2 separate regions of the Homo sapiens genome follow, and region 1 is linked to region 2. The links come from fine-mapping of genetic effects on gene expression. A gene starts in region 2. The other region holds a variant in brackets. All regions are shown on one strand. Distances are from middle to middle. Region 1 overlaps ARFGEF1 (ARF guanine nucleotide exchange factor 1). Region 2 holds the start of SGK3 (serum/glucocorticoid regulated kinase family member 3).

What was found. PIP is the estimated chance that this variant, and not a neighbour inherited with it, causes the effect. A credible set is the group of variants that fine-mapping cannot tell apart.
Region 1: its variant is the best candidate, but not a certain one, in a credible set for the expression of SGK3 in whole blood (TOPMed, PIP 0.73).

What each region holds. Positions count from the first base shown.
Region 1 is chr8:67,302,942-67,305,858 of GRCh38, forward strand. The region is part of intron 1 of ARFGEF1 (ARF guanine nucleotide exchange factor 1); the gene reads right to left. Among named protein-coding and RNA genes, the nearest start is that of ARFGEF1, 39 kb to the right of the region's middle. The variant T/C (reference allele first, on the strand shown) is at 1,643.
Region 2 is chr8:66,711,171-66,714,052 of GRCh38, forward strand. It overlaps SGK3 (serum/glucocorticoid regulated kinase family member 3), which reads left to right and starts at 1,611. Exons shown (of 17, transcript NM_001033578.3): 1 at 1,611-1,663. All of the region lies in intron 3 of C8orf44-SGK3 (C8orf44-SGK3 readthrough), which reads left to right. RefSeq lists a silencer at 1,320-1,789.

The sequences.
Region 1 (2,917 bases), 590 kb after region 2:
AGCTTGGGCATGGTGGTGTATGCCTACAGTCCTAGCTATGTGGGGCAGGGGGTTGAGGTGGGAGGGTCCCTTGAGCCCAAGAGTTAAAGGTTACAGTGAGCTATAACCACTAGACTCCACTACAATCCAGCCTGGGCACAAGAACAAGACCCTGTCCTCCCACCAAAAAAAAAAAATCACAACAGAATAATGTGTATGCTATAATGAAGTCACAAAATGTACGGCAGATGTTTGGGGACAGGAGGAAAAACACCTCAATGCACCAACCTTGTGATTACCCCAGGGAGATTATCAGACCAGAACTATAACTTCTTAAATATGTTTGTGCATTGATATTTAACTCATTTTTCTATTTATGACTATACAAGGCCCTATAAAATACACATGCTCAATTTAATGGGAAATTTTCCCTTTCACTATTTATACTATAAGGTATCAGATAAATTAGACAAATCCTACCCGTAATAGAAGACCCTTAAATTTAATTGGCTGAGCACAGTGGCTCATGCCTGTAATCCCAGCACTTGGGGAGGCCAAGGTGGGCGGATCACCTGAGGTCAGGACTTCCAGACCAGTCTGGCCAACGTGGTGAAACATCGTCTCTACTAAAAACACAAAAATTAGCCAGGCGTGCTGGTGGTGCGCGCCTATAACCACAGCTACTCGGACGGCTGAGGCAGGAGAATCACTTGAACCTGGGAGGCGGAGGTTGCAGTGAGCCAAAATCACACCACCACCCTCCAGCCTCAGCGACAGAGTGAGACTCCATCTCTTAAAAAAAAAAAAAAATAATAATTAATTAATATATTGGGGAATCTGGCTAATTGACTAAATCTGCCTGAAATTTGGAAAAAAGGTATTCAAATGTGTGCCAAGTACTACTACACTTTACATATACTAAACTTTACATAGACTATTACACTTTACATGCAACTAATGTATTTATGTTTGACAACAATCCTATGAGGTGTGTACTATTATATCTTCATTTTAAAGACTGGAAAATTGAGGAAGAGAGGTTGAACAACTTGTCCAAAGGCTGCATGGCTTGGACGTATGGCTAATCAGGTTTCAATATTAGGTAATCTAACTACAGATTCTGGTTTATTAACCGTTCTACCATATAGGTGTATCTGAGAAACTGAACAAACTGTGCTAAATTGGGGTATGATAAACAACTACTGGCCTATACATTTTTAACACTATCACTAACTGAGCATCTTTCACGTACCAGATACTGTATTAAACCCTTTAAAAAGCGACTTTGACAAATCACCTTGCTATACAATTTCTACAATTCATTCGCACAATCCATACAACTTATTCATACAATACATACAAATTTACTCATTGCCTACTGTGTGCCAGGCATCTGATGTTCAGTATTTCAGTTTAGTTTTCTGTGAACCAAACCCCTTTCCATTTTATTACTGGTAGAACTAGAAGGCAGATAGTATAAAAATATTATCTGCAGCTATTTAAAATACCACTTTAATAAAGGTTCACAATGATATTTAAGATCTGTATATCAGTTACTAAAATTGCACGGCTCACCAACAGATACAATCAAAAATAATCTTTATCACTTGAAAATATATGTGTGGGCTGGGCGCAGTGGCTCACACCTATAATCCCAGCACCT[T/C]GGGAAGCCGAGGCACATCGATCACTTGAGGTCAGGAATTTGAGACCAGCCTGGCCAACATGGTGAAACCCCATGAAATACAAATATTAGCCGGGCATGGCGGTGCATGCCTGTAGTCCCAGCTACTTGGGAGGCTGAGGCACAGGAATCGCTTGAACCCAGGAAGCGGAAGCTGCAGTGAGCTGAGATTGCGCCACTGCGCTCCAGCCTGGGTGACAGAATGAGACTCTGTGTCAAAAATAAATAAAATAAAATAAATGTATGGATAAGGAGGAAATGCTGTGTTGACTGACCTAAATCATCATAAAATAATTTAAGTATTCTTCATTTAAAAAAATTATCATTATTTAAGAGGCTGAGATACTACTACAAACCAGTAAGGCAGGAAAAAAGGCAAGGCAGGGGAAGAAGAGGAGCTGGCAGTTTTTGTTATAAGGTGAATTCCCATTTGTAAAATAATTACAGAATAGGATATTCTAGTTAAGTAAATTATACGCTAACTAGGAATATCAGAGGAAATGAAACATTTTAAAGAGCACTGTGTTTTGATACCAAATATCACTAAATAACTGTGAGCATGAGAAACAACTCTAACTTCACTAACTACTAGATAATAAAGGTTCCTTATATTCTAAAACATGGGTGAACAGAAGCCTACCATAAGTTTTTGTGCAGCCCACGAGTGGAAGAACAGTTTTTACAGCTGAACATCTGCAATCAACTTGATAGGGAAACTAAGGATCAGAATAAATAATGGCCAGTTCTAAGGTCAGATAACTGATAGGCGGTGATCCAGAAACTTGTTTCTCTAGTTGTTTTTGTTTGTTTTTGTGAGATAAAGCTTGCTCTTGTTGCTCGGGTTCAAGCGATTCTCCTGCCTCATCCTCCTGAGTAGCTGGGATTACAGGCATGCGCCACCACACCTAGTTAATTTTGTATTTTTAGTAGAGACGGGGTTTCTCCATGTTGGTCAGGCTGGTCTTGAACTCCTGACCTTAGGTGATCAGCCCGCCTCAGCCTCCCAAAGTGCTGGGATTACAGGTGTGAGCCACCGCGCCCGGCCTTGTTTTTCTAGTCTTAAACTAGTGTATTACCCAATACATTGTGCTATATTTAAGCAAACTTGTAATAACTGGTGCAAATGAAGTGAAAAATATCATTCTACAATTATCAGGATTACATTCCCCCCTTATCTGCAGGGGATATATTCCAAGACCTCAGCGGATGCCTGAAACCTCAGATTAAATCAAACTTGATTTCTGTCAACTAGAACAT
Region 2 (2,882 bases):
GGTTCCCAGATGTTTATTTTTTTAAAAAGTCAAGATGTGGTGATAGCCAGGTATTTGTCTCTAAAGTGAGAATGATGTTATTCCACTTGGAGTTTATTGACACAGAACTTCCTTTTGTCTGAGAAATCTTCAGCACTGTGAATATGGCTTTAATTAAGAGATACACTCATCACTTGTTGATTTTGTTACAAGGGAAGAACTCCTCTAATGTATGTGGATTGCTTTGTGGACCACAGTAAAACATATAAAGGACCACCGGCAATGTATTGTTTTGTATCTACTGCATTCTTATATTCATTTCTGAAAACTACTGTTTAGAAAGTTCTGTAGGATTACTGAAGTACAAAAAGTATTTGGATTCACAATCCACTTTTTAAAGAGAGGCCACATTGTGGTTATTGACATTAAAAATGAATGTCCTAACCCATACTTGTGGGGCTAAATCTTTGAATATCATTTTAAAACATGAGGAAATGTCTTCTGAATTTAGGGAAGTCACACATAGATCCCAGTTCCTCTAATAACCTTTGGCAGTTTATTTGTTCATAGATTTGTGGCAAATTCTCTGGAATCATATGATCTAAAGTACAAATCATTGTCTCAAAATCTAAGGCATGATATGCACATGGGAATCTTTAAGTACTTGTCTGAGTCTATCTTCAAGTGATATCTGATAAGACCTAAATTACAGTAGTGTTGTGGGACGAAGAAAACAACCCACTCTACTTCAAAATCTTAACCACTTGACTCCACATCCATTGAACCATGTAATTCTTAGTTCTCCACTCAGCTTCTCTATCTGTTAAAAGAGATAAACAGATCTAAAACGCAGCTTCTGTAATTCAAGAATGAGTAATAAGGAGCTGTAAAGTGTGCACTCAGCTGACTTGGAGATTAATGGGAATAAAAAAAAGAGTCAGTAGATCTAAAAAGATGTGTGGAAAGGAAATTTCTCTGCACACAGGATCTGCCAATTTGTGAAAGTTCTCGACTGTTTATAAACACAAGGGCCGTAACTCTGCTAATGACAAAAGTGGAAAACTGTCCAAATAATGCTAAATGAATCACAGTTGTTCTCAATTATTTGGATATTTAATTCACTCCTCTGAGTTTCCAGTTTACACCAAGCCAACCCCCCCAACACCACGGGCCCACCCGGGGGGTCCTGATCCCTGCACACACCAGGTCATCTCTGTTGGGCCCCGGCGCTCTGGCCCGCGCCGGTCTTGGGCCCCAGGGTAGCGGCCACTGCGGGCGGAGCAGAGGGAAACACCAGAGTCTGTGACTCCAGACAGGACCCACTGTGTCCTCTTGAACTTTGCACAGCGCGTGACGGGGGCAGACGGTGCACCGTGGCCCGGCCTTTCGCGGGGGTCCTCGGGGAAGAGAGAGGAGCGCGGGTTTCCTCGGAGGCCTGAGCGGGACGCAGCCTGCAGCCCCTCCCCGCACGGGCTGCCCCCGGCCCGCCGCTCGCGCCGCTCTGCTGGGATCCGGCGCCTTCCCCGGCTGTCCTCGGCCTCCCGCGCGCTCCGCGGGAGGAGCCGCCAGCGGCCGTGACGCGTCAAGGAGGAAACGCCGGCGCCCGGCGGCCCTGCCGGGAAGGAGGAAGCGCAGTGCGTTCGGCTCCGCGCCCGCCGCGCCGGGAGCAGCACCGCGGGGCCAGGTAGGTGCGGGGCCGGCGGGAGGGTCCGCGCGCCCGGGACTCCGACGGCGGCCCGGGGCGGGAGGAGACGGGGCGGGGCGAGGGCTGCCCGGGCCTCGGCCGCTGCCTGTCCTCGGAAAAAGCCGTACCTCCGCCCAGCCCCCGGCTCCCGGAGAGTTTGTGGTCTTTGTTTCCACGAGGTGAATTCAGATCCTGCCTCGAGATTCCTAAACGCCCAAGGGGCGTCGGTGGCTGGACCTTGTTAACCCCCACGCAGCCGCCGAGCCTGGAGGAACTGGGAACGCCGAGCAGGGAGACCCTATCTGAGGTCGAAAGTGGGTGCAGGTCACCTGCGAGGGTCGGGGAGGGGGCAGCCGCCAGAGTGGGGTGGATGGAATCGTTTAACCTGTTGTCAGCGGATCTGTAGTAAAAGACCTTAATACGTTGCGTCTTTTAAGTTCTCTGTAATTTGAACCCTTACGTCTCTTCAAGTGAATCTGGCCCTATTAATTCTCACAGTTTTAGCTTTGGAATGTACCCACAAGAAGTGCTTTGAGATTTTTAGATTCTGTCATTTTTAGTCATCGTTACTTGGAAAGAGAAAAGAGAAAGGAATCATCTCTTGAAACTTAAAACGCTTTCATTGAGTTGTGCACAGTGACTTCTGAACCATGAGTAGAATTTCAGTCCTGCACCAGAGACTACTTAGTGTGCACTTGGGTGCAAAATAAATACAGAGCACTGTAATTTCTAAATCTTTTGTCAAAGTGAAAAATAGACTGTTGTGTATTTTGATTCTCTCCCTTCTCACCAGATTGAGACTTCACCCAGCCAATCTGGGAGGTGCCTTTTTTTATTTACCAAACACTTACATAGCCCTTACTATGCGCTGGGCTCTTTCTAAGTTCTTTATAAATATTAAATCAAATTCTTAACTTATCATATTATAGCGGTTCTAGCAATGAAGAGGCTATCCATACTTTAGTTCCCCAAATGTCATTGGAAGAGCTGTAAACATTAGAGGAAGTTTTAGGCATGTTTTAGCACCGGGTGTGCCTTCTGGTCCCCTTGGCTACCACTTCTGTAAGACAAGCCACCACCCCAGCATTTCCCTGGGGTAAGGGAGCCTGGAGCTCCTGGGAATGCGACCTGTTCAAAGCAGATGTTGGCCAGAACCTGAATGACTTGTGTAACATGGTCTCTTTCAACTGCCGTTGTGCCCATCGGCTAACTCTGGAGA